Linked DNA regions of Homo sapiens. The protein of the gene in region 1 interacts with the protein of each later gene in a pairwise test. Each region holds a gene or a part of one and is shown in the gene's direction. Other genes may lie near its edges. The genes, in order: TRIM32, TTC23, SCGB1A1 and CLIP4.

Region 1 (7,350 bases):
TGTATACATAGGTAACTAACCTGCACATTGTGCACATGTACCCTAAAACTTAAAGTATAATAATAATAAAATAAAATAAAAAATAAAAAATAAATTAAAAAAAAAAGTGTGGCTGCCCTAAAATGTTTTTGTCATCCATATACAATTGTTGTCTCGCTTTGGTCCTCTTTAACGGATGGTTTTATAATCAGCTATAAAATTTAACAGGCCCTCTTAAATGCAGGTTTCTGATTAAAAACTCTGGAGACTGTGATATTAGAATCGAGGAAAAACTTTCAAATTGAAGAGTGAATAGTGTTTGGTTTTCTTTGGACTATATTTGTATAAATATGTTATTAGTATGTGTTCCAGAAATTATGGGAAACTTCTATAATTCTGATATGATTTAGAGTACATTATTAATAATTATAATTGTTATATAAAAGTGTTGTATGCCACAGAAGTAACCAAGATTCCTAGTCAATTGCAGCTTTAATAGTAGCTATAGACTTTTGTCATCCATAGACATTTTGTCTTGCTTTTGTCCTTTTCAAAAGGCAGTTTATAATCAGATATCACACTCTGAGTGCAGGTCTCAGATAACTTTAAAAATTGTTTTATTGGAATAGAGGAAAAAATGAAACTTCTAGGCTTCTCACAGATAGCTGATGTGTTAAGCATTGCTAATCCTCTCATTTTCAGAGTCAAGATAGCATATTTCTTTAGAGTTATTTGCAACTTTTAACAAATGAGTAAAAAATACTTCCATGAAAAAAATTTAGAGCATATTTGTTTCTCTCTACCTGATTTCTCCTGAATATGGAAACTATTTGTAAGTATTCTCAATTTATGCCAGTATACTTAATTGCATAAGTGCAGTAAGAATCTGTTTTTGTCTTGTAACAGGACACAACTGGAGAAATTGATTATTTTACCAAGGCTTTTACTGGAATGGCATGCTTCCTTCAAAGAATCAAAATTAATGTATAGAGCCAATTAAAGCCCCCTGGGGAATCTAACCTCAGACCTTGTCTATAGTCCCTGTACAAGGTTCTGTCATACAGTCCCTGTACAAGGTTCCTGACCTGTGGTAAGTAAAGAATGTCACTTTCTAACAGGCCCAGGAACCCCAAGTTATTTTGGGACCTTGAGAAGAGAGGAATTTACCCAACTCATAGGTATTTGAGGATACAAACCCATGGCTGAGCTTGGCTTTTAAAAACTCTTATCTGAGATTCCTCATGGAACAGAGTTCCATCAAAGCTAATTTAAACAAAAAAGACCCTAAGTGAAAAATAATTATTCTTGCTGCACTTTATGCAAATAATCAGGCCAAGTATAGTAAGACTAAAGTACATTTCTGTAAACAAATCAGTTCTATCATGATTTGTTTTTAATAAAAATGGGGTCTGGAGAGAGAGAAATTATGCTTCAAGAGGAAACCTATTGTTAGCTGTTGTTAGCTGTCCTTGAGTTTTTTCTACAATTTTGACTAAATCCTAAATTATTTGTGGGTTGGAAGTCGCCAGACTAATGCTTTCAAATCTTTGCTTTTAAAATTGAGTATTGTACTCCTCATCCTAGGACTCATTATTTACCTTATAGTAGGCTGTTCACCTAAATACTGTACTAAAACTATAGATGAGAGTACTAATGTTTTTGCCATGCAAGCCTTAGAAGCCCAGCCAGACCTGCATGAGTCGCTCAGACACTTGAAAGTGGTCCCACTCTTCTCACCTTGGGGTTGACTCCCATTCCCACTACGTCCCCTGTCAGCAAGAAGAACCCAGAGCAATCGACAGCCTTTTCCCATCTTCATACCCTACACTTTAAGATTAAGGTGTTACAAAACCCAAAGTGATGGACTGAAACTGCCTTTGCAAAATTATGATTGAGACAGTAAAAGAGATCTAACTTAACTGACTCCATCTTGCTTCTAACTTCCAAGCTGTCCTTGTTCATTCCTGGGCATAGGCTGAACTAACTTTGGGAGAAATTTAGTCTGTAGTTCATAGTTTAAACAAAGACAGTAACAACCCTATCCCAAAGCAGACCTCCTTGCCTGGGTACTAGATTGCCTTTGTAGGACTAACATTAGCCACAAGATTAGAAATTGCGGTTTAGGAGTCATGCAGCTGGAGGTTACAAGATGCTGAGCCTCCCTAAAATGCTTCTGAGATCAGTGCTTGAGATATTTTGCAGACCCTGCACTTGATGGATCAGCTGGCACCACCCAGATCAATAAACTCACTCATCTGATCTTGTGGCCCCCCCACTCAGGAACTGACTCACTGCAAGGAGACAGCTTCGACTCCCTATGATTTCATCCCTGACCAACAGCGCTCCTGGCTCACTGGCTTCCCCCAACCCACCAAGTTATCCTTAAAATCTCTGTTCCCCAAATGCTCAGGGAGATGACTTGAGTAATCATAAAACTCCAGTCTCCCGCACAGCTGACTCTGCGTGAATTACTCTTTAACTATTGCAATTCCCCTGTCTTGATGAATCAGCTCTGTCTAGGCAGTGGGCAAGGTAAACTCCTCAGGTGGTTCCACTGATATAGGTGATTTAAGTGTTAAATAAAAATCTGTTACATTAAAATGCTGAATAAAGAGTGTTTAAAGCACTCCACAAAGATTATTTTTTAAATGCCTCTGTGTAAGAGGAATTCTAATATTGTGCCAGGATATGTCAAGCTATAAGATAAAAATTGAGTGCATTTCCTAGAATGCTTATTCTACTCTAAGATTTTGTGAGAGGTATAATAATTCATTTAACTGGTAATAAACATTAAAGAAGAGTCAAACACTGATTTTTGTTTTAAGGGAGAAGAGAGATTTTTTTTTTTCAAGACACTTGCTTGAGCTAGATCCCCAGGAGTATTTTTAACACTCCTCTGTAATTAGGGAAACATCAGTATGTCTGTATTGATACATATACACACATATATAATATGTATATATGTAAGACTATGAACAGTCCTAAATTTATACTTTGGGCTGATAACTGTGGTTTTCAGGAAAAAAAAAAATTTTAAACGGGTGCAAAGTCTCCCCAACTGGTCTAAGTGAGAAATCATTTGGCATTACCTCTCCCTTATCCCCTACCTGCTAATTACAATTTTTCAAATATAGTTATCATTAAGTGCAAACTACCATAATCTTGGCTTATCTTCATGGCAAACTTCAATTAGAAATTTAGAAAATGGGGAGAAAGAGTAAACAAGGTTAAGAGAGTGGGTTCTCAGATAGAATTGGGTACAAATTTGGGCTCCAACACTTAGGTATATGTGGCCTTGTGTAACCACCTAGGTTACACAACAGGTGTAGGTTAACCATCAGCTGCCTTATCTCATTAGGTCCTTATGAGGATTTAGTGAGCTATGCACCTGAAGTCCTCAGCTGTAGCCAGACAGCAAGTGTTCAAAGATGTTAGTCATTGTTTTTGTTTATTGTTTTATCATTGTGCAGGGTCACATAGCTAAGGGGAATTTCAAATCCAAGTCCATCCTACTTCAAACTCCTTTGTGCTCCTAAGCTGTACAGTATAGTCACCTTGGAGAGTAGGTGATTGGCCCCAAACTACTTCAGGGACTGCAGGTCGTGGCCAGCCAGTCCTGTATCAGACCTCGTCCTTGCCAGATGCCTAGTGCCCCAGATTCCCTCAAATCTCAGGCCAGATCACCTCCCACCTGGTAAGATTCCTCCACCTTCACCCGAGCAAAACTACACTTGGTTTGGGTTCCCGGGTACCTTCAGTCTGCAGGGACAGGGGCTGCAGAGTGTACTCCCCAAGTCTGCCTCTGCTGTCGGCCTCCCAGCTGAGTAGGCAAAACATTCCTTTACAGAGCAATGTGTTCATGGATAAACTTGTCTCTAGTGCAGCTCTCTGTCAGAGCACAGAACATGAGGCCAAAGCACTGCCCTTCCTAGGGAGTCCCGGTTCTCGACTTCCCCAGAATGGAAGTTTGATTTTTCCGTTGGCCCATTTCTCAGATGGAAAAACAGATTCAGTAAGGTGCCAACGCTTTGCTGAGGACTACCCTGGAGGCTACCGTTTTGTGAAGGGGTAGACATTGAGACTGGAGTCAGATACGCATTCTGGCTTATCTCCTGACTTACTGAGTGAACTTGAGCAGGTCCCTTTCGCCCATGGGCGTCGGTTTCTTCATCTGCACCAAGGAGACGGAAAACTGGATTACGTGTCGCTAAGGCCCCGGGTTCTCAGAGGAAAGCTCACCCCTGCAGGGCCGCCTTGCCCCGCGCGCTTGGGGCCAGCTGCACGACAAGCCCCAGCATGCTGGGGAGGCGGGGCTCAGTGACGGACAGGGAGCTCTGCGAATTGGCGCCCGGCAAGGGGTGCTCAACGGCGCGTGCGCAGAGGGAGGCAGGCGGGTGGGCTGCCGGCGGTGGACTCGTCGGAGCCGCGGGCGGTCAGGTAGGGGGCGGGAAGGAGGGTTGGGGACTGGGGACCGCGGCCGGAGTCGTGGGCCGTGGCTCAGCGGCCAGGCGGGGGAACGTGCCGGCGTGCAGCGGCCGCGCCCGAATGGCAGGGTGTGGGGACCGGATCTGGGGGGGGCAGGACTAGGGTGGGGGTGGGGCTGCGAGGGGCAGGCTCGGGAGGGATTCGTGGGGCTGAGGAGATCCGAGGAGATGCAGCTGGGGGAGGGGAGCGAGGGGCTCTGAAGAGATTTGCGGTTGCAGCATCTCGGGAGGTATGAGGTAATGTCGGGGCCCTGAGGAGGAACGGGGTGTAGCATGTGGGAGATGGGAGGGAATCAGGGCCCTGGAGGGACCTGGGTGCAGAATTTCAGAAATATGAAGGAACTGGGGGGCCCCGATGAGATTTGAGGAAATCTGGGGGCGCTAGGCATCTGGCAAGGACAGGGTCTGAGATGATAGGAGCAAGGTCTAGGGCGATCCTAAGTGCTATTGAGAAAGGGTTTTCGGAGTGGGCTGAGGGTGAGATTGAGGGGGTGGGGTGAGTTCTTGAGGGACTCTATCTTGTTAGCAGAAAGAAGGGAGCTGGCTGAGGTGTGAAGGCAGCACATGACATTCAGTGCATAAGAGGAAGGAGCAGGGTATGAGGGCAGCACAGTGCCCGATGGAATGCAGGAGATGGGGGCTCAGATTGAGGGAGAGCAGAAATCTGGGGTGAGGAATTGGGGCGTTGAACTGAGGTGCGGGGCTGAGTGTGGCAGAGATTTGGAAATAGGGATTAAACGATCTGAGTCCGAGGGATTTGGGGCATATGAGTGAGGAATTGACGAGGGTTGCAATATACAGCCCCAAAGATTGGAATTTGGAATTGTAAGAGGGTTGGGGACAGGGTTTGGAGAGGATTGAATCGTGGGGTGGAGATGTCCTAACTGGGCTATAAAATCAAAGGACCCTGAGTAGATTTGTGGATTGGTGTCTTGGGCTGCTAAAGAGATTTTCCTTAAATCGCTGCATGGGAGACAGAGGGAGTTCAGGGGACCCAAGGACCTAAAAGTAATGTATGAAACTGGATGAGTATATGAAGATGAGCAGAGTTCAGGTGCTGAGGAACAAAGTGATAAATCTTCAGTTCAGATAATCCTGAAGGAGTGTGGTAATCCCTGTGAAGGGCAGAATCTTCTTCATTTATTAAACAAAGATCCGTTATCATGAGGCAGGTATGGTATTGCCACTAACTCCATTCTGACCACCGGTCCCCCGGCCCACTGAAAGTGGTAGGCTTTGGGGAAGAAGAAGTGGAACTATTCAAGGTCATCTGCCTAAGCCCTTTTTCCCTGTACCCCCAAGCTACGATAGCAGATAGAAAGTGAGACCTCCAGGGGAATGAGTGGAATAATTTATCCTATATAAGATCCATTACAGCTTGAAGGGGCAGTGGCTCTGTGAGTGAGGTGTTTGGGCTCGGAGACAGACAAAACAACAACAACAACCACCAGAAAAAAAAAAGGGAACCCTTAGGTATTGAGCATTTAGTCCTGTGCTAGACTGTAAAGCAGTGGTTCTTAACCAAGTCTGGCTTTGTCTCCTAGGAGACATTAGGCAATGTCTGGAGATGTTTTTTGGTTGTCACAGGGTGGGGGATACTACTGGCCTCAAGTGGGTAGATTAAACATTAAACATAATGTTTTATGTTAAACATTTGACAATGTGTGGGATACGCCCTTCCCCCCCGCAGTAAGGAATTATCCTGCCTAAAATGTCAGTAATGCCAAAGTTGAGGCACTCTGACCTAGAGTCAGATACCCTGGGTTCAAGTCCTAGCTCTATCTCTTCCTGACTTTAAGTCCTAGCTCTATCTCTTCCTGACTTTGTGGCCTTGAATGAGTTACTTAACCACCCAGTGCCTTGGCTCTTCATCTGTAAAATGGGGTTATGATAACAAGACCAATGTCACAGAATTGTTGTGAGGATTTAGTGAAGTAAACTAGCATGCCTAGGATCTGGCACATAGTAAGTTCTCAAAATCTAGTAATTTTTAGTCTTGTATCTACTTCTTTACTCAGTTTTCATGACAGTCCTTCTAAGTAGGCTCTACTGTATTCAGTTTTACACATGAGGAAACTAAGGCTTAGGAAGTGACTTGCCTAAGTTTCCATAGCTAGGAATGACACAGTTAAGCTCATACCCAGATCTCTGTAACTCCGTATATTCCCGCTTTCCTTGCTTCTTCCTTGCTAGGGCCTGCTTAGTCTTATTTTCTCAGCCCATTCCCCTCTAATGAAAAAGAGGATTGCCAGTGAGTATCACTGACTATCAGATTGAACTCTAAAGTTGGGGGGTAAATCTCTCTGATTAGGTAGGGAGGAGCCCTGGACTTTGTTCTTGGTTTGCCCTTAGACCAAGACCTGGGGCTAGATAAGGAGAGGAGCCTGAGGTTATCAGGCAGGATGAGGTGCAACGGACTATAGGGTGAGGTATGGAGGCCATTGGCTTGAAAAAACACCTCATAGCAGGGACTGAGGCTGAAGGCAGTCATACTCTGAAGGAGAGTAACTACTGTTCTGTATGGTCTCTTTTGGTCTGCTTTTCCCTGGAACAGAATTTGGCTCTATCATTTCCAGGACTAGCTACAGGGTTGCTGAAGCCAGTTCAGAAACAAAGCTAGACTGTGTCTGACAGCAAGACTTAGCTGGAATATCTGTGCACATCCCTAAAAGAAAATATGTCATGGGAATTAAATCAGCCCTGTCTAAACTCCTTACTCTAATTTCCTATGTTACCTTGTCAGTAGCTACGGCACTTGTCCTGTCAGCCTCAATCTATTAAAAATGCAAATGATTATAATTTGTTGAGTGCTTATTATGTGCATTATCTTAGTGAATTCAATCCTGCTAACAGTCTAGGTTTTATTCCTTGTTTACAGATAAGAAAA
Region 2 (7,025 bases), on another chromosome or scaffold:
GTACAGTGGCTCGATCTCAGCTCACTGCAACCTCTGCCTCCTAGGTTCAAGCGATTCTCCTGCCTCAGCCTCCTGAGTAGCTGGGATTACAGGTGCCCACTACTATGCCCAGCTAATTTTTTGTATTTTTAGTAGAGACAGGGTTTCACCATGTTGGCCAGGCTGGTCTTGAACTCTTGACCTCGTGATTTGCCCACCTCGGCCTCCCAAAGTGCTGGGATTACAGGCGTGAGCCACCACGCCCAGCCCCATGTTACTGATTTTTAATTGTTCTTTATATATTGTGGTTAAAGTCCTTTATCAGATTAATGATTTACAAATATTGTCTCCCATTCTGTGGGTTGTCTTTTAACTTTAATAATAGTGTCTTTTGAAGCAGTAAAGATTTGGATTTGATGAAATCTAATTTATCTTTTTTTTTCTTTTATCACTTATGCTTTTGGTGTTATATCTCAGAAGTCTTTGCCTAACAGGCTGGGCCCTGTGACTCACACCTGTAATCCCAGTATTTTGGGAGGCCAAGTCGGGTGGATCACCTCAGGTCAGGAGCTCGAGAACAGCCTGGCCAACAGGGTGAAACCCCGTCTCTACTAAAATTAGCTGGGCGTGGTGGTAGGCACCTGTAATCCCAGCTGCTTGGGAGGCTGAGTCAGGGAGGCTGAGTCAGGAGAATGTCTTGAACCTGGGAGGTGGAGGTTGCAGTGAGCCGAGATCACGCCACTGCACTCCAGCGAGAGTCTGTCTCAAAAAAAAAAAAAAAAGTTCATGAAGATTTACTCCTATATTTGCAAAGAGTTTTATAGTTTTACCTCTTACTGTTAAGTCTTTACTCCATTTGGAGTTAATTTTTGTATATGGTGTGAGGTGTAGAGATCCAACTTTATTCTTTTCATGTATCTATCCAGTTGTACCAGCACTGTTTATTGTTTATTGAAAAGACTGTTCTCTTCCCATTGAATTATCTTGGCATGCTTGTTAAAAAAAATAATTCACATATATAAGAGTTTATTTTTGGACTCTCAACACTATCCCATTTTTCTATATATTAATTCTTTTTTTTTTTTTTTTGAGATGGAGTCTCGCTCTGTCACCCAGGCTGGAGTATAGTGGTGTGATCTTGGCTCACTGCAACCTCTGCCTCCCAGGTTCAAGCGATTCTCCTGCCTCAGCCTCTCGAGTAGCTGGAATTACAGGTACTTATCACCAAATCTGGCTAAATTTTTTGTATTTCTAGTAGAGACAGCGTTTTGCCATGTTGGCCAGTCTGGTCTCGAACTCCCGACCTCAAGTGATCCGCCCACCTCGGCCTCCCAAAGTGCTGGGATTACAGGCATGAGCCACCACGCCCGGCCTCTATATGTCATTTCTTATGCCAGTACCACCACGTTGTTTTGGGGAGGGCTTTTCCCCAGCTTTATTGAAATATGATTGACAAACTAAAAATTATATACATTTGAGGTAAACATCATGGTGTTTTGATATAAGTGTACCTTTTGTAATGATTCCCACAATAGAGCTAGCTCACACATTCATCACTTGACATAATTACCATTTTTGTGTGTGTGATGAGAACATCTGAGATCTTAACAAATTTCAATTATTTTCTATAGTTACCATGCTGTATATCTCTAGAACTTATTTACCTCATAACTGAAAATTTTTAAGTACAACACTTTTGATTACTTTTACTTTAGTTTTATAGTACATTTTAAAAATGGGAAGTGTGAGTCCTCCAACTTCTTTTTTAAGATTGTTTTATTTATTCTTAGTCTCGTATTTCCATCTTAATTCATCCATAATAAGGATCAACTTGTTAATTTCTGCAAAAAAACAGCTGAGTTTTGATGGATATTACATTAAATCGATACATCAATTTGAGGAGTATTCTATCTTAATATTGAGGCTTTTAATCTATGAACATGGAATGTCCATGTATTTAGATCTTTAATTTCTTTCGATAATGTATGATTTTCATTGTACAAGTCTTGTATTTCTTTTGTTAAATTTATTCCTACATATTTATTCTCTTTATCCTATTTTGAATCAGTGTTTTCTTAATTTTATTTTCAGATTATTTATTGCTGACATATAAAAATACAATTTTATTTATTTATTATGTATCCTATGGCCTTGCCGAACTTATTTAGTCGTTCTAATTGGGGGGGGCGATTTATTTGTTTATTTATTGTGGAATCCTTAGGATTTTCTACATAGAGGGTTATGTCAGCTGATAATAATGTTTTATTTCTCCCTTTCTAATCTTCATGCCTTAATTTATTGTTCTTGCCTGTTGCTCTGACTGTAATATCCACAACTTTGACTACAGGTGGTGAGAGAAATCATTCTTGCCTTGTTTCCAATCTTGGAAAACATTCAAACATGCTCCATTAAGTATGATATTAGCTTTAGGTTTTTGTAAATCAGGATTTTTTGGTTTTGTTTTTTAATTTTTAATTTTTGTGAGTACATAGTAGTAGGTGTATATATTTATGAGATACATGTGATGCTTTGACACAGGCATACAATGTATAGTAATCACATCAGAGTAAGTGGGTATCTGTGTCCTCAAGCACTTATCATTTCTTTGTGTTAGAATTATTCCAATTCTACTCTTTTAGTTATTTTAAAATATACAATAACTTATTGTTGACTGTAGTCACCCTGTTGTGATATCAAGTACTAGATCTTATTCATTCTATCTAACTACGTTTTGTACCCATTAACTATCCCCACTTTTCCCTCCCTGCCCAATACCCTTCCCAGCTTCTGGTAATCATCATTCTACTCTCTGTGTTCATGAGTTCAGTTGTTTTAATTTTTAGCTCTCATAAATGAGTGAGAACATACAAAATTTGTCTCTCTCTGCCTGGTTAATTTCTCTTAGTATAATATCCTTCAGTTTCATCCATGTTGCTGTAAATGACAGGATTTCGTTCTGTTTTGTGTGTATATCTACCACATTTTTTTATCCATTCATGTGTTGATGAACATTTAGGCTGATTCCAAATCTTGGCTGTTGTGGATAGAGCTGCAGTACACATGGGAGTGCAGATATCTCTGATATACTTTTCTTTTGGATATATATGGAGCAGTGGGACTGCTGGATCATATGGTAGTTCTTCTATTTTTAGCTTTTTGAGGAACTTCCATACTGTTCTCCACAGTGGCTGTAATAACTTGCATTCCCACCAACAGTGTATGAGTGTCCCCCTTTGTCCACATCCTCACCAGCATCTGTTACTGCCTTTTTAATAAAAGCCATCTTAACTGGGGTGAGATGACCTCATTGTAGTTTGATTTGCCTTTCTGTGCTGATCAGTGATGTTGAGTATTTTTTCATATACTTGTTGGTTATTTGCATGTCTTTTGAGAAATGTCTATTCAGATCTTTTGCTCACTTTTTAATCAGATTATTAGATTTTTTTTCCTATTGGGTTTTGTTTAAGCTCCTTATATATTCTGGTTATTAATCCCTTGTCAGATGGGTAGTTTACAAATATTTTCTCCCATTCTGTGGGTTGTCTCTTCACTTTGTTGATTGTTTCCTTTGCTATACAGCAGCTTTTTTACTTGATGTGATCCCATTTGTCCATTTTTGTTTTGGTTGCCTGTACTTTTGAGATCTTTCTTAAGAATTCTTTCCCCAGACCACTGTCCCAGAGAGTTTCCCCAGTGTTTTCTCTTGGTAATTTTATAGTTTCAGGTCTTATATTTAAGTCTTTAATCCACTTTGATTTGTAAAATCAGGCTTTTATCAGCCTTTTATCAGGTTGGGGAAGTTTTTTTAATCATGATTGGATAATGGATTTTGCCAAATGTGTTTTCTGCATCTATCAAGATGATCAGATGGTTTGTGACCACATTCTACTGTATAGTGTATTATATTAATGAGTTCAGATGTTAAACCAACCTTCCATTTCTAGGATAAACTCCCCTTGATCATAATGTATTATCCTTTGTATATGTTGCTAGATTTGGTTTGCCAATATTTTGTTGAGGATTTTTGTGTCCATATTCATGAAGGGTATTCATTTGTTATTTTCTTGTGATGTCTTTGTCTGGCTTTGGTATCAGGGTAATACTGACCTCATAGAACAAGTGAGAGTTTCCTTCTCTATCTTCTGTTAGAGTTTTCAAAATACTCATGTTGTTTCTTCTTTAATGGTTTGGTAGAATACATCACTGATGCCATCTGAGCCTGGGCTTAACCTTGTATAAATATTTTTAATTACTAATTTAATTTTTTTACTTGTTATAGATCTATTCAGATTTTCTATTTTTCTGTTATTTTTTTATCACTATTTTTTTGGTATTTTTTATCTTTTTAGAGTGTTTTTCCAGTGCGTTAGCTTACATATGGGTAAGTTTGCTTCTTAACTAGCGTACACTTTCACTAGTTAAGAAACTAGTCATAATGGCTTCTTTTTTTTAACTTTTTTTTTTTTTTTCTGAGACAGGATCTTGTTCTGTCACCCAGGCTGGAGTGCAGTGGTGTGATCTCAGCTCACTGTAGCCTCCGCCTCCTGGGCTCAAGCAGTCCTCTCCCGTCAGCCTCCCAAGTAGCTGGAGAAGCCGAGCGCCACCACACTCGGCTAATTTTTGCAATTTTAGTGGAGACGGGGTTTTGACATGTTGCCCAGCCTGACCTTGAACTCCTCGGCTCAAGCCATCAACCCATCTCAGCCTCCCACAGTGCTGATATTACAGGCATGAGCCACCGTCCCTGATTGATGAGGTTTTTTATTTCCTAAAAGCCACTGCCCTGAGGGCCCCTGCCCCTTCCTCAGGCTCCCCTACATCTCTCCACAAGTCAGCCTCCAACGGTTCACACCTGGAAAAGCAGGGGACCTTCAGAACTGAGCTCCAGCCTAGTTGGCACCTATATAGATTGGTTGGCCCTCCTGCTATTTCAGTTATTATTTTGAACATCACCACTTGGAAGACTGAGACTCCACTTCAGACCTCTTCTTCCTAACACCCTGATCTGGGGCTGATTATGTGCTTTAACATTCTACTGGGCAGGTCTGGCAGAAGGAACAGTATCAACTGACTGAGTAGGTCTCATTGGCAGTTGTGATTCAGAGACCTAGAAAGCTGAACCCACGGCTGGCAAGAAGAGGATGGTTTGTGGGACCTGGGCTGATGTCTGATGAAATTTTAAGCCCCAGCTATAGCTACTACAAAGAAAAGTGGCTGATGATAAGCATGTAACTCAAAGTAAGTGAACTGAGAAGCATGTTTTTTGTTTGTTTGTTTGTTTGTTTGTTTGAGACAGTTTCGCTCTTGTTGCCCAGGGTGGAGTGCAGTGGCACAATCTCGGCTCACTGCAACCTCTGCCTCCCAGGTTCAAGCGATTCTTGTGCCTCAGCCTCCGAGTCGCTGGGATTACCAGGTGTGTGCCACCACACCTGGCTAATTTTTTGTATTAGTAGAGACAGGGTTTCTCCATGTTGGTCAGGCTGGCCTCGAACTCCCGACCTCAGGTGATCTGCCAGCCTTAGCCTCTCAAAGTGGTGGGATTACAGGCATGAGCCCCCGCGCCCTGCCTGAGAAGTATGTTTTTATGTTGAGGATGTTACTGTGTGATGCCACATACATTGAAACACATACATTTAAAGTAAGGCCACAGACTCAAATGCCTCTAGAAGCCAGACAGGTAGCATACCTCCTCCTTTCATTGATTCAGAGACGTACATTTTTTTTGGCATTTGAACATCTCTGAAATTAGAGTGAACGTTACAATTGCAAGTCAAATGGTGTATAAAAAAGCAGCATCTTTATAGTCAGTGGTGCTTTAGATTAGACGAAATAACAGAAAATGAGTGGTGTTGGCCAGGAAAATTATATCCTTCTCTGTTGGCCTTTCACTTTGAAAGAGAGAAATGGATACAGAGACCTACTTTCCTACAATAAGACACAAGAACAATGACAAATGGGAACGACTTTGCTGCCTTCATGTCCGGTAGCCAATAGGGATTGGTGGCAACAGGCAAACTGGAGAGTACCCTTGCCCCCAGGGCAGCTCCCCCTCTTCCCTAGCTGATTATTGCCTGTGGTGGCATAGATCTAGTGTTGACAAGTGTTCTGAGTTTTCAAAGGAAGTCAGAAACCCCAAAATCTACATCTTCATGTGAAACTCCTAATTTTAAAATGATGGCTCAATTTTTTTTAACTGGCGAAAAAAAATATATATATACAAGTTAGATGAGCCTATGAGTGCTCAGAATAAATATAACCTCTCTTTTAAGGATGCAATATTAAGAGGCAGCATGAGACAAACCAGTTTTTACAATTAAGCCAAAAAAGAAAAGTTAAATCCATTTCGAAGTTTAACACTAGGTTCAGAGGCCCAGAATAACAAATACTGCAGGGCCTCTTACTTATTTCATCTTTAAACTTTCTTTTCTGCCTCCCACTAAATGGAAGATAAGAAAATATAGTTAAATCTATTGAAGATGTTGCATTCCTGTTTATAAAAATGTATGATCACTTTTTAAAATGCAGGCTTAGGTTTCCAAAGCAACAGCATTTGCTTCCCACTGCTGTAGACTGTGGTCAGTGAAAGGCAGGATGATGTCATGGGAAACCCCCAAATTATGAGAAGACCAGGGTGCTAATTCTGGCTGTGTGATGTGCAACTGATTTAGGTTCATTTCATCGTCTTTATTTATAAAATGGGGATGATAATAGCTACCCTCTGTACCTTACATGGTTGTAAGGGCCACATGAGATAAAACATGTGAAAGTATAAAGTGTTATGTATATATTAGTTGGTATTGCCCAAATCACATGGGTAGTTGGGACAGCACAGGTTCTTGAATCTCAGATTCTCCATCTCTGGCTACTGCTCTTTCCCTAGACTGCAGCACCTGTTGAAATGGTCATCTTATCAGCCAGTGGGGTTGAACAGATGAGGAAGCATAAGGCAAGAAGTTATTAGAAAAAAGTTAGCCAACATCTTAGGATCTCAAATAGCACTGTGTCTCTGTACAACAGGGTGTAGGCAAAGCTTTCCTGTTAAATCT
Region 3 (7,446 bases), on another chromosome or scaffold:
AGCTCTGAGTTCCAAGCCTTGACTAACACACTTTTTGCCTCACTATCTCAAGCAGAGGGTCAGAAGAGCAGGGGCTTTGCAGGGTCCTGAGGCAGGGGAGAGAAACACCCACCGCCACCAAGCAGGATCTCCCAAGGGCCAGATGGCAGAGCCTATCTGGGACACTTGGTGGTGGCAGTCGAGGTACCTTCCAGAATCAGAGCAAACCTCCAACCTCGCACCTGAAAGGCCAGTGCCCCCGGTGCCCCCAGACTCCCACTGTACCTGTGTGCTTATCTGTCCCATGCATGTCGGACCATGGCCAGGTCCCCTCCTGAGCCTGGGCCCCCTTCATGTGGCTTCCTCCTCCTGGCACATCCCCCGCTTCACCCCAACCACCAGCATCACCCATCCACCAGAGGCCAGCTCAAATGCCAGCCCTCCACGTGCCCTCTCCCCTCTGCCCAGCTACCTTTCTTGGGGCAGCCCCCTTTCTTTTTTTTTTTTTTTTTTTCCTTTTTTTTTGAGACGGAGTTTCGCTCTTGTTGCCCAGGCTGGAGTGCAGTGACGCGATCTCGGCTCACCGCAACCTCTGCCTCCCAGGTTCAAGCGATTCTTCTGCCTCAGCCTCCCAAGTAGCTGGGATTACAGGCAAGCACCACCACAAGCCCAGCCAATTTTGTATTTTTAGTACAGACAGGGTTTCTCCATGTTGTTCAGGCTGGTCTCGAACTCCCAACCTCAGGTGATCCGCCTGCCTTGGCCTCCCAAAGTGCTGGGATTACAGGCATGAGCCACCACGCCCAGCCTGGGGGCAGCCCCCTTTCAACTCCCGGAGCACCATTTCCTTCTCTGACTTCCTCCATCTCCCCACAGAGCATTCCCATCAGTTGCACCCATCTCTGTCTCTCCTCCTAGCTGTTAAGTTCCTCAAAGACCCAGGAGCCAGCTATCCTGTCCCCAGGACCTCGCACCATGAAGGTGGAAAGTAGAGAGCAGAGTCTGAGGCTATGGGTGATGTGACTCCTGCCTAAGACCCCTGCAGCCATCACAGCTGCCCCGGCCAGACCAGCCACTGCCCACAGAGGGATCCACTAGTGGCGGCACTGGATGGGCTTTAGGTGCCCCCAGTGGTCCAGCTCATCTTCCTTGCCCATTTCAGCTCCATTGGCCACAGCTTTCTTTTGTTTGTTTGTTTGTTTATTTATTTATTTATTTTTGAGATGGAGTTTCGCTCTTGTTGTCCAGGCTGGAGTGCAATGGTGTGATCTCGGCTCACTGCAACCTCCACCTCCTGGGCTCAAGTGATTCTCCTGCCTCAGCCTCCCAAGTAGCTGGGATTACAAGCACCTGCCACCACGCCCGGCTAATTTTTGTATTTTTAGTAGAGAGGGGGTTTCACCATGTTGGCCAGGCTGGTCTCAAACTCTCGACGACCTCAGTTGATCTGCCCTCCTCAGCCTCCCAAAGTGCTGGGGTTACAGGCAGGCTACACCTTTCAACAGTCCCTAAGAGGGGAGGGATGCAGACACCTGAAATCCTCAAGATGGGCTAACCTCAAGAGCCCAGATGATGGGACACAGAAGGAAACTTAAAAGAAAGAAGGCACTTCTGAGATGCTTTATGCAAATACAAGCAAATGCATATGTGGATTCTTTTTGCTTTTTTTTGAGACGGAGTCATGCTCTGTCACCAGGCTGGAGGTGCAGTGGCATGATCTCGGCTCACTGCAACCTCTGCCTCCTGGGCTCAAGTGATTCTCGTGCCTCAGCCTCCCGAGTAGCTGGGATTACAGGCAAGCGCCACCATACCCAGCTTTTTGTATTTTTTTAGTAGAGACGGGGTTTCACTATGTTGGCCAGGATGGTCTCAATCTGACCTTGTGATCCACCCGCCTCAGCCTCCCAAAGTGCTGGGATTACAGGCGTGAGCCACCGCGCCCAGCCTTCTCTTTGTTCTTTTTTGCTCTATTCATGCCTTGTTTTTCCCCCTTTGCAGTCTGCCTTGGAGATCATTTCACCATCAGCTCAGAAGATCTTCTTTCTCTGTTTTCAGCCACACAGCGTTTCATTGTAAGGACACACCATAACGTACTTGACAAGTCTTTGTTGGTTGCTAGTTTAGAACGTGTGCTCTTACCGGTGTTAAGGCGTCTCGGAGTGGGACGGTTCCGGGGTCACCACAGCCTTCAACTGTCACATGGCACAAAGGCCTCATGCATGGATTCATTCCAGGGATTCCTGTTTAGCAAGCGTTGCGTACCTTGGCTTACAGCGGCCTCAGCCCTAAAGGAGGTCAGTCAAGTAAAGGAGTCATACAAGAAAATAAGAATTGCAAAGTTAAAATATTGTATAATGGGCCCTGTAAGCAGAGGGGGAAGAGAGGCCCATGGGGAGAGTCACCACCCATCAGAACCACCTGTCGGGGAAGGCTTCACTCCCTATTTTCACCCCCAACCCTATTTTTCCCAAGTCTTCTCTGTGTCAGGAAATAACACCCCATTCCCCCAGCTGCCCAAGTCAGGGTCAGTTCATCAGGAAAGGGATATCAGACCATGTCACTCCCTGATTAAAACCTTCAAGAGCTTCCCACTCTGAGTGTAAAGGCCTTAGAACGAGGCCTTGTGTGCTCTGGCCCCTGAATGCCCCCTTTGCAGGCACAGCAACCCTTTCGAAGCCCTCAGGCACAATGGGGTCCTTCTTTTTTTTTTTTTTTTCTGAGACGGAGTTTTGCTCTTGTTGCCCAGGCTGGAGTGCAATGGCGTGATCTCAGCTCACCGCAATCTATGACTCCCAGATTCAAGCAATTCTCCTGCCTCAGCCTCCCAAGTAGCTGGGATTACAGGTGCCCACCACCACATCCAGCTAATTTTTGTATTTTTAGTAGAGACGGGGTTTCATCATGTCAGCCAGGCTGGTCTCAAACTCCTGACCTTAGGTGATCCACCTGCCTCAGCCTCCCAAAGTCCTGGGATTACAGGCATGAGCCACCCTGTCTGGCCTTTTATTTGTTTATTTATTTTTATTTATTTATTTATTTTTGAGGAGTTCTTGAAGTGCCACGCAATGCCTCTCCATGTCTATCTACCCCAGTTCCCGACTCCTAGCACCACATCTGGCACATCATAGGTGGTCAGCATTTATTGGATGAATGAATGGATCAATATTTGATTGAGTCTTGAAGTACGAATAGAATTTGGCGAAGTGGACAAGGCAGGAAATGTGTATTCAGGCATGAGGCTTAGCTTGTGCATAGGTAGAAAGGCATGAAAAAACATGGAACATTCTCGAATCCACAAATAGTAAGAGAGGGCTAAGTCGTTGTGTGGGGGAGAGGAGAAATGAAGTTCAAATGGTAGGCAAAGGTCAGTGGGCAAGGGCCTTGTAAATTGCACTTGAATTTTATTCTTTAGGCAAAAGGAAGAGTTTAAGGGTTTCAAGAAGAAGGACACGACCAGTGGGTTTTAGGAAGATCATTCTGATGGCCTTTCAGAGGATGGCTGAGGAGAGCTAGCAGGGAGGCAGGGAGGTCGAGTCAGGGGATTTTGACCAGGCCAGGTTAGGTGCTATGAGGCCCGGGCTTTGGAGAAGAACCAGGAAATGGCAACTGGAGGCAAGAAAGGGGAGAAGGCCAAAGCCTGGGAACCATCAACACTTAAGAACAGTAAAGAATAAACATCTAAAGAGAACAAGAAGGAATGGCCAGAAGAAGGAAAACAGGAAAGAACTGAGGCGTGGGAGCGCAAGAGAGAGAATGGTTCGAGAAGGAAGCAGTCACAGGTGTCAAGGCCATTGGGAGGTCAAGTGAGATAAGGACTGAAGGTCCCACCAATTGGGCCATCAGGAGCACAGGACTTGAGAGCACTTCTGGGTGGGAACAGACCCAGCCTGGGGCAGGGCTCAGGTTTCTGATGGGAATTCTGGAAGGGTCCCTTTTATTCAACATGCTTCAATCCAGGGGCCCCCGAAGTCTGACCACAGCAATGCTCCAAACCATGTGTCTTTCCTGGCTTAAGGTTCAGTCGCCCTCCTCAGAGGGGAGCCTATGAAAGAGCCCAGTGGAGTGTCAGGGTCCTGAGTCCTAGTCCTAGTCCTGTCCCTGCCACTTGTGAGGGAACTTGGGCCTCAGTTTCTCCAGGTGGGCTCCACAATTGCTTCTCTTGATCTGGACTGCCCCAGTGCCCAGGTTCAGTGAGTGACACAGGCAGCTGGGTTTCCACATCCTCTGACTTGGGTTCCCTTCACTGCCTCCAGGCAGGGCTCGGCCCTCCACCCCCAAGTGGCCCATTGTGTGAGCTCAGTTTCAGTGGGGACAGAAACTGGGTTGAGAAAAGGGAATATTTACCTATCCCACCAAGCCAATGCCAAGTAAATAGTGCAGTATCTTATGTAGAGCCCTTGCCCTGCCCTTCCCCATCTGGGTGCTGCTGCCTAGAGCATATAAAAGGCACCTTGCTGGGCATGTCTCATACTAGCCCACCAGACTCAGAGACGGAACCAGAGACGGGCCAGAGCATCCCCCTCCTCCACCATGAAACTCGCTGTCACCCTCACCCTGGTCACACTGGCTCTCTGCTGCAGCTCCGGTGAGTGCTCAGAGACCCTTCCCTCCCTCCTGGACTTAGGAACTCTCAGGACCCCCCAGTTCTGCTCAGAAGAAGGAGTGAGCTGCCCATTCCTGCTCTGGAGCTGCTGGGAGGACCTGGGCATGCTGAGTCTCAGAAAACTGGGTCTGGTGAGCAAGCTCATCTTGGAAACTTGGAGAGAGCCCCAGGCTGTAAGGAAGCCTAAAAAGGGTCCCATCTTCTATATCCAACAACCCTCAGAATCCCAGGGAATGGAATAGCCTGGAGGGAGGAGTGGAGAATACCCCATAAAGATGAGTACATCCAGCATAGGAATAATGAGGCCCTCATCCCAGATCTGGACAGACTCCAAGATGCTGAGACCTTGGTGCAGCCTCCAAGTCTGGGGTCTCCACTCCATGCTGGCAGCTGAAGTCACTGGAAGGGGAGCTGCAGGGACTCGTGACCCCAAAAGAAACCCAACCCAAGACAAGGTCTCTCATTCTGGGCACAGAGGAATATTCCAGAAAGAGAGCTTCCCTTTGGGGAACTGCCAACCCAGAGTGAAGTTTTCTAAACATTTCCGTCCTCTGCAAAAGGGATTAGGAGTCTCTGAGTAGTTGCTGCTGTCACTAAAAGGAAAAGAACTGTGGGGGGAAGAGGGGCAGAAAGAGAGACGGAGAGAGGGGGAGAAAGGAAGGAAAGAAGGATCACAGCTCTCTCCAAGATCCCCCGTCTTTGGGGAACTGGGTTATCTAACTCTGTTTTTCACTCTGCGTCAGCCTCTTCCATTCTCATCTGAAAATGCTGTTGTTATTTTTTAATAAACAAACTCCAATTAATTCACTTGGAAAGCTTCACAACACCCATGGAGATAAGTTTTATGACCCTGGGGAGTTAGAAAACCCAAACCAAGAAGCAGTAGGAACAACTATTTTGCAGAGAGGTTTATTTGTTTTTCAGAGAAAATGACATCATTTTGGACTGAAATGTGTATTAATTAGAAGATCTCAGTGCTGTCTGCGTACAGAGGTGGGTGGCTGAGCAAGATAGGACTGCAACATGTTAAGGGGTGGGTCAGAGATGCATTTGTCTATTTGTGTGCACATGCATACAATATTTAACACTTACTTCACACAATGTGCCAATCACTGTCACCCTTTCACATAATATCTCTTTTCATTCTTTTTTTTTTTTTTTTTTGAGACAGAGTCTCGCTCTGTTGCCAGGCTGGAGTGCAGTGGCGCGATCTCAGCTCACTGCAACCTCCGCCTCCCGGGTTCAAGCGATTCTCCTGCCTCAGCCTCCCAAGTAGGTGGGATTACAGGCACGCACCACTGCACCCAGCTAATTTTTGTATTTTTAGTAGAGACAGGGTTTCACCATGTTGGCCAGGATGGTCTCCATCTCTTGACCTCGTGATCCACCCACCTAGGCCTCCCAAAGTGCTGGGATTAGGCGTGAGCCACCATGCCTGGCCTCTCTTTTTATTCTTACAACAACCCTATGAAGTAGGGATATTGGGCCAGGCACGGTGGCTCACGCCTGTAATCCCAGCAATTTGGGAGGCCGAGGTGGGTAGATCACTTGAGGTCAGGAGTTCAGGACCAACCTGGCCAACATGGTGAAACCTTGTCTCTATTAAAAATACAAAAATTAGCCAGGCATGGTGGCGCATGCCTGTAGTCCCAGCTACTTGGGAGGCCGAGGCAGGAGAATCACTTGAACCTGGGAGGCAGAGGTTGCAGTCAGCCGAGATGGCATCACTGCACTCCAGCCTGGGCAATAGAGCGAGACTCCGTCTGAAAACAAATAAATAAATAAAAATAAAATTTAAATTAAATTAAAATTTAAAAAATAAAAAATAAAATGAAGTAGGGATATTGTTCCCATTTTACAGATGAGAAAACTGAGCTACAGAAACACAGAGTGACTTGCCTGGTGACACAGTAAGTTACACATCAAGGACCTAAGTTCTGGAGAGGGTCTGACTTGGAGTGGCAATTTCTAGTGAGGCCCTAGAGTCAGAGGAGGGAAGGCAAATTTGTTCAGAAGGCAGAGAATTCAAGGAAAAGGGATTTGAGACTCACTGGGAAGATGGAGGCAAGCAGTGGGTAGAAAATGGTGACTTTCCCCCATGTTCCTGGTTGTAAGGACCTGAGAAGAAAACAGAGTCTGGAAGCTCTGTGTTGAAGGGAATGAAGTGGTACAAGTGGCTGCTCTGTCCATGAGCTGAGTGTGCCACAGGGCCCGCTGTGCACATGTGCACACCTCTTCCCGGCCAGGTTCGGGGGCCCATGTTTGGCTGGTACAATCTCAATGGCTTCTTTTCTTTTCTTTTCTTTTCTTCTTTTTCTTTTCTCTTGCTTGCTTGCTTGCTTGCTTGCTTGCTTGCTTTTTGAGACAGAATCTCGCTCTGTTGCCCAGGCTGGAGTGCAGTGACGAGATCTCAGCTCACTGCAACTTCTGCTTCCTGGATTCAAGTGATTCTCCTGCCTCAGCCTCCTGAGTAGCTAGGATTACGGGTGCCCAGAACCACGCCCGGCTAATTTTTTGTATTTTTAGTAGAGACGGGGTTTCACCATGTTGGCCAGGCTGGTCTCGAACTCCTGACCTCGTGATCTGCCTGCCTCGGCCTCCCAAAGTGCTGGGATTACAGGTGTGAGCCACCGTGCCTGGCTTACAATCGCTTTTTCCTGCCAGAGCCTGAATTTGTCACATGCCCCCAGTGAAGCATGGCTCAGGGCATCTCTAACCACTGATGAGAGGCAAGTTTCTGGTGGGAAATAAAACCCTCAGTGGCCTCTTCCCAGCCTCCACACTGCATTAAAAAATCAGGCCAGCAGCTTCTATGATCAATACTCTGCCTTGATCTCCAACAGAAAGAAAAACGGCACCTTGCT
Region 4 (7,025 bases), on another chromosome or scaffold:
CCTTTTGAGGTCCTCACCATTTTTTTCGACTTCTTATTCATATCCTGTCTCTAGTTCACTTTAATCTCCTCATTCCCTAACTTTGTATGTGCTTTTTTTATCCATACCACCCAATTGTTATTTGTTATCTTGGGTTTTGTCCTCGGATTGCTTTATTTGTGCAAGTGTCCTATTCTCTCGGCAAAATTTTAAACTTTAACTGAACCATGAGAGTAAATTGTAGTGTTGTTTTCACTGTAGCAATGCACAAAACAGGTGCTCAATAAACACTTGGTAATTTGTAAATAGTTGAGGTAGAAAGCTCTCTACCAGGATGAAAGGAATTTGTCCAAGAATTAGGCTGGCCTTTATATTCTGTTCCACTGGGCTATTTGAATATCCCTGTGTCAATACTGCACTCCATAATAAGTAGTTTTTAAAAATAAATCTTGATGTCCAGTAGTGGAAAACCTCCTATCTCATTCTTGATCATTGTCTTGCTGATTTGGGGCTTTTATAAATCACCCTTCCGTATACATTTTACAATAAACTGTTAAGTTTCCTTTTAAAAATTCTGTTGAGGTTTTATCTGATGTTTTAGTTGAAGCTTAAATCAATGGGAAAGAACTGACATCTTTACAATAGTCAGTTTTTAAATTATGAGTTTAGAATATCTTTCTGTTTAATTAGGCCCTTTGAAAATATCCCAACAAAATTGTGTAATTTTTTTCTACAGGTATTTTATATCTGCCTTGTTAGGTCTATTGGTAGGTACTCCATACTTTTTGGTGGCATTATAAGTAGCATCCTTTTAACCTGAAGCCCAGAAGTATACGGTAAATATAGACAGAAAGCTCCAAGAGAAGCCCCCTCTATTTCTGGTCTGAGGAGCAGAAAAGGGGTCTCCTATTAGATAGAATGTGGATGAAATCACCTGTTATCTTTATTGCTTGCCTTTTCTTTCCCTTGTTTCCCATCCAGTCCCCAGGCAGTCCTACGTGGTATGGATGGGCAGCTGTGAATGGGCAGGCACCCGAAACCCCAAGGAAGGGAAATCCATGTCTCTGACCAGAGAAACTTTGGTCCAAGGACATAGATGGAATCCACATTGGTTTTTCTTCTGTTTTCTCACTGCTTGGCCCCAGAGGCACAATCAGTCTCAGGATTGTATGACAGAGCAAGGAAACGAAAGCTTAGACATTCTACTCAGAATACCGGGAAGGGATGCCCAGGAGCAGGAAGTGTCAGGGAAATCATAGAGAGGAGGGGACTCAAGAAAGAGGCCTCACAATTTTGGCTGTGAACTCCTAGGTCTTCTTGCAAGTGGTGTATGCATGGATCTGACCAAAGCCTTTGGTCTCCTTGGTAGACCACTGCTTGGGTCCCAGCCTGACTACTGGGCTGCACAGCACATGAGACAAATTCAAACAGCATTGCAGAGGCTGCGGAAGCGGAACCCACATCAGAACCACAGTGCACAGAGGGTGGTCAGGAACTTCTGCCCAGAGGCTACATGGGTTGACTGCCTGCTAAAATGAAACAGTCAACATCCTCCATAGGATTTAAACAAGACCTATTCCAGTGTCCATACATAATATTCAAAAGACACAAGATACAATTTAAAATTACCCAAAATATGAAAAAGTCAACACCTCTTACAAGGAAAAAGACAGTCCAAGCATAGCAGCTTTGAGATGACATGGACATTGCAATGAACACATAAAGATTTTAAGTAATGTAACCACACTCCAAGAATTAAGGGTGTAGCTGGGCATTGTGGTGCACACCTGTAGTCCCAGCTACTCTAGAGGCTGAGGCAGGAGGATCACTTGAGTCCAGGAGTTTAGGCTGCAATGGGCTATGATTGTGCCACTGCACTACAGCCTGGCTAACAGAACAAGACCCTGTTTCTGAACAAAAAAAAGAATCAAACGTGAACACTCTTGAAACAAATGAAAAGAAAGTTTCAGCCAAGAAATAGAAGATATGAAAAACAACCAAATGATACACCCAAGTGTATACACACACACACACACACACAAGAGTACAAGCAGAACTGTGGAAATCTCAGACTGGTGAATTGTATCACTGCCAACATCCTGGTTGACATATTATACTTATTATACCACAGTTTTGCAAAACATTACCTTTGGAGGAAACCTAGTCAAAATGTACAGGGAATCTCCTTGTATTATTTTTTATAAAAACTTTAAAGAAAATATTTTATAACTGAAAAATGTAATGAAAAATAAAAATTTACTCTTCAGGTTGCCTTCACAAAATGTCTCCTCTCCACCCTCTTCATTCAGTTTCTGCTGTTGGAGTTCAGGCTCTCATGCTTGGACTATGCTAATAATGTCTGACTGGTCCCTGCTTCCAGCCTCTCCCGCTGTGGTTTCGTTGCAGCCCTGCTGTCAGGAGAGTGTTATTTAACTAGACTCTGTTCATGCCAGTATTCCTTTTCAAAGCCCAGCAGAGGCTCCTTCTTTACAGAAGAGTTCTCAGTCCTTAGCTGGGCACTGGCATCCCTGTCTGAAGTGTTACTGTGACCTGTCTGTCTAGTCTTGCTTTTCCTACATTTCATAAGTACTCTGTTCCAGCCAAGCTACTCACTATTTTCTGTGTCTTAAGATTTTCTTTTTGTCCATCAAGAATGCCTGCCCTCAGTTCTTCCTGACCATACGGCTAGTATTCTCAGGAAGAAATCTGACCTGTCCCTTAGGACCCATCTCAGAATGTGATCATCTTGATGAGACATTAATTGATCTTTGTAGCCACTGTTACTGTCTCCTTCTCGTATGCTAGTGCTTATACCAAAACATGTCCTCATATGTCTGTGCAGTTGTTATCCAATATGTTTTCAGAAGTGAGTGAGATTTCGATAATGAGGGATGCATGTACTTTAAAAAATACATTTTATGTTTAATGTTAAAATTCTTGCTTAAAGTGTTTTATTTTTGTGTCCAAGGATTAATGACATCAAAAAAAGATAGTGCTTCTGAGTCAACACTTTCATTGCCTCCTGGTGAAGAACTTAAAACTGTGACAGAGAAAGATGGTAATATACCTTGTAACCTCTGTTTCTCAAAATTTAACTTTTGATGGAACTTTAAAATATGGTAGGAAAACAGTTTATATGGAGGTTAAGTTTTAAAGTTGGCAAGGGAAAAATTATAGTAAAAATTAAACTTGGAAATCACTGAAGCAGCTCATAGCAAGCTATATACATTATATTTTTTGTGTGTAAAGTACTGCATTATGATTCTTTTACTTAAATTAGATAACTACTGGACTAGATTTAAGAAAATAAACGGAAATTCCATAATATAGAGCACTCTACACAAATGTTTCATTTGCCTTTAGCTATCAAATCATTAGATGAATTGAGCATGAGTATTCCTTCTTGCCTTCTGGTTTAACTCAAAATGTCTTAATATTAAACTTTTGTTGCCTTAAAACATATTAATATCATGTTTAATTTTTGTATAAAAGGGGACTCTACTATGTCATCTAAGGTGAGAGGTGACTGATGGTCATTAGATTAGGTAGTCAGTTCACATCAATTGATGTGGTGATACCTCTTACATAAGATTGTGATCTTACCGTGGGAATCCTTAAAATATTATTGCTTGTGTTATAAAATCTTTTATATATAAACTACAATTGCTATTTGGATGAAATTAGGCATTTAATTTGACACTAGATAATCCATAATTGAGGAAGTTAAATGAAGAATTTCAGAAAGATTTGCCTTGACAAGCTGCTTCTTGGTCCACATCTTATTTTCCACCGTTTGACACGTTCTTTATCTGTTACAGTTGCCCTGCTTGGATCTGTCAGCAGCTGCTCCTCTACATCTTCTTTGGAACACAGACAGAGCTACCCCAAGAAACAGAATGCAATCAGCAGTAACAAGAAGACAATGAGCAAAAGCCCTTCCCTTTCATCCAGAGCCAGTGCTGGTATCTATGGCTTTTTCAACCAGGCTTTCTTGGTGTTTTTTATCTTGGTTTGTTTGTAAGTAGATTTGCTCTTTTTAAATGTGTAGAAGGAACCCTTTACTTCAATCAGATTGAACTACTTTTACTCTTCCCCACCTCCCCCGAACCTTAAGCCTTAAGGTCTCTTTGTTTTGCCGTCTCAGATATAAGACTTTGCATTTATTTTCATGTAATTCATTCTTAGTGGTTTTACCTCATCTGAATTTAGCTTCTTCACAGGCCTTTGTGTCATCTTCATATTTAAAAAGCATGCTTTCTGTGTTTTTATTCAAGTGATTGTTTTAAAACTATGTTTGCTTAAAACCTAGGAGAAGGTCAGAGGGTCCTCTCCCAGGATGGCAATACCAGCCAGTTTTGATATGGCTTTTTAACTAGCCGTGAACCTGCATAATCTCACTCAGTCCACATTTCTTCAGTTATTTGTAAAGATACGTAAAACACTTTATCAGACTTCTTTTCGAAATGACATAGATTTTGTCTGTTGCAGTTCACTTATTTGCCTATATAGCGAACTTGTCCAGAAAGGCAAAAGCCATCTTGGCAAAATACGTTCTTCATGAACCTCTTTATTACCAGATTCTTTTTTTAGTGCTTCTATTAATAGTTCTTGTAGTGAACCAACATTTTATTATGGAAAATATTCATGACAGATTTCTAAAAAAATACTTGATGGGAAGAAACCTCCAAAGCTCTCAACAATAACATTGACATAATAAGCCTAAAAACTGGGACCCTAAAAGTAGAGAACCTGAAAGTTTTCCCTGAAATTGTTTGCCTGGAATATTTATTCTCTGAGTGGCTTCCTCTCTCCATACCCCAACCAGTTTTTCTTTATGTTGTGAGGAGCAGAGGTGAGAAGGTACAGTGCTGACACAGCCATCCTGTTTGTCCAAATTTCATTCACATTTTAAGGCCCCCTTCATTTGGTATTTGCACTTTTGACATTTACTTGATTTTAAAATTTATACATGGGTATGGAATTACTTTTTTTTTTTTAACCTTCTAAACAAAGTAGTCTAGCGTGCCTATATATTTACCATTTAAAAAAATAAATTTGAGGGTTATGTCGACTTAAACAACAGTGAAGATGAAGAGAGTTATCAGAGTGAGAAAGAGGACCTTTCAAAGAGGGAGATGGGCCGAGAATGGGAGATATGGGAAAGTCTGTGTTGGGAACCCCAGAGACATGTACTTAAAACATGTTTCTCTAGTGAGTAGATATTCCACTTGTTTTATAGATTTGCATTTGAGGGAGATGTAGACTGCAGAGAACGAACAATAATGGAAAGTTAGGTTAAAAAATTAGAGAAAGAAGAGTGGAAATAAAGGATTCGGGGAATGGGAAAGGTAGGGACCTCGGCCTCATCATATCCCATTGTTATTTACTTTTTATTTTTTATTAAAGACAAGGTCTTGCTGTGTCGCCCAGGCTGGGGTGCAGTGTTGCAATCATAGTGACTGCAGCCTTCAACTCCTGGACCCAGGTGATCTTCCTACCTTGGCCTCCTAAAGTGCTGGGATTTACAGGCATGAGCCATCATGCCCAGCCTGTGTCCCACTGTTGAACTTGCCATCTTTGGTTCATTGTCTACAGGCGACAAGGGGACGGGCCTGAGGATTTCTGATCACAGAGTCTTGGTTTTAATCTAGGTGTACCACTTACTGGCTGTTAACAGTGTGTCTTAGTTAATTCCTGAGTTTGTATCTTATTTTTCAGCATAATTTTTAGGAAAAGCACTTTGTAAACTATGAAGTGCTATAGAATATTGGTTATGATGAGGGCCTCGGACTTACTGGTATAATCCAGACCTTCTCCATGGGTTTATTTTCCTTGTTTAGTTGCTGTGTTTTTGATTTCTTCTTTTTTCACAGTATGACTTACCCTCCATCCCATGCCCTCCTCCAGAGTTCTCTACTCCCTCTCAGATGGCAGCTCTTCAAATCTTTGTTTATGTACTGATGGGACAAGGCTCAAGCACCCACTTCTTCTCTTTCAGCTGTTATATTTGAACAGCTTTCTAGATCATATTTCTCTAGGACTTCTATGTTTAATAGTGGGCATTTCAAGGTTTAGTTTTGAATCAGGTTGACAGGGCAGTGGTTTTGTTCTTAATAACAAAATCACTTTAGGATAATTAGAACCGTATAGCAATTTAACCTTCAAATCACACTACTTTTGGCTGGTCACAGTGGCTCATGCCTGTTATCTTAGCACTTTGGGAAGCTGAGGTGGGAGGATCACTCAAGCCCAGGAGTTTGAGACCAGCTTGGTCAACACAGCAAGACCCTGTTTCTTTAAAAAAAAAAAAAAAAAAAAAAAAGTCAAATCACATGACTTTTTATATAATTTACACTGAGTCTAAGTGAACTATTAATACTATAATTCTAGTATTTTAGTAGAATAGAAATTGTCAAACTATGGCCCATGGGCCAAATCTGACCTACCACTTGTTTTTGTAAATAAAGTTCTTTGGAATGCAGCCATGCACATTTGAAAAAAATATATTGTCTATATCTACTTTCATGCTGCAACAGCAGAGTTCAATAGTTGTGGCAGAGGTGGTATGGCTAGCAAATCCTAACATATTTACTGTCCAGCAATTTGCAGAAACAGTTTGCTGTGACCCCTGTTCTAGTAGAGATGCTGCAGGCAATCTTGGAAGAGTTGGTAGTTTACCAGGGATCAGGTTTTGTGAATTTCCCATGGCAGTAATTTTCCCAGGAAACTCTTCACATTTCCTTTGAGCAGCTTGACCTCACATGTGAGAAACACAACTGTAGATGACTTATGTGATGAAAGGCATCAGATATCAAAATCACCAACTAACTAGACTAGTTAGAATACCTAGTGTGATTTTTTGGCTAATGTGCTTTTTGAGTTTTTCTCCCTTTGTTTTTTCTCCTCTTTTCCTGCCCTGCCCCTGTATCCCTCCCTGACTTAAACAGGTTTGAATTCCTCAGCAACATCTACAGCAAATAATAGCCGTTGCGAGGGGGAACTCCGCCTCGGAGAGAGAGTGTTAGTGGTAGGACAGAGACTGGGCA

What was found.
Region 2: the proteins of TRIM32 (region 1) and TTC23 interact in binary tests that used the Homo sapiens proteins (3 or more experiments, as listed by UniProt).
Region 3: the proteins of TRIM32 (region 1) and SCGB1A1 interact in binary tests that used the Homo sapiens proteins (3 or more experiments, as listed by UniProt).
Region 4: the proteins of TRIM32 (region 1) and CLIP4 interact in binary tests that used the Homo sapiens proteins (3 or more experiments, as listed by UniProt).

Annotation. Positions count from the first base shown.
Region 1 is NC_000009.12:116,682,966-116,690,315, forward strand, and holds the start of TRIM32 (E3 ubiquitin-protein ligase TRIM32), read left to right. Parts: upstream 1-4,339; 5' UTR 4,340-4,416; intron 4,417-4,603; exon of another isoform or gene 4,604-4,700; intron 4,701-7,350. UniProt on the Homo sapiens protein: E3 ubiquitin ligase that plays a role in various biological processes including neural stem cell differentiation, innate immunity, inflammatory resonse and autophagy.
Region 2 is NC_000015.10:99,239,557-99,246,581, reverse strand, and holds part of TTC23 (tetratricopeptide repeat protein 23), read left to right. Parts: intron 1-1,071; 5' UTR 1,072-1,193; intron 1,194-5,022; 5' UTR 5,023-5,217; intron 5,218-7,025. UniProt on the Homo sapiens protein: Participates positively in the ciliary Hedgehog (Hh) signaling.
Region 3 is NC_000011.10:62,414,587-62,422,032, forward strand, and holds the start of SCGB1A1 (uteroglobin precursor), read left to right. Parts: upstream 1-4,446; 5' UTR 4,447-4,509; coding exon 4,510-4,564; intron 4,565-7,446. UniProt on the Homo sapiens protein: Binds phosphatidylcholine, phosphatidylinositol, polychlorinated biphenyls (PCB) and weakly progesterone, potent inhibitor of phospholipase A2.
Region 4 is NC_000002.12:29,153,407-29,160,431, forward strand, and holds part of CLIP4 (CAP-Gly domain-containing linker protein 4), read left to right. Parts: intron 1-2,947; coding exon 2,948-3,037; intron 3,038-3,797; coding exon 3,798-3,941; coding exon of another isoform or gene 3,942-3,996; intron 3,997-6,926; coding exon 6,927-7,025.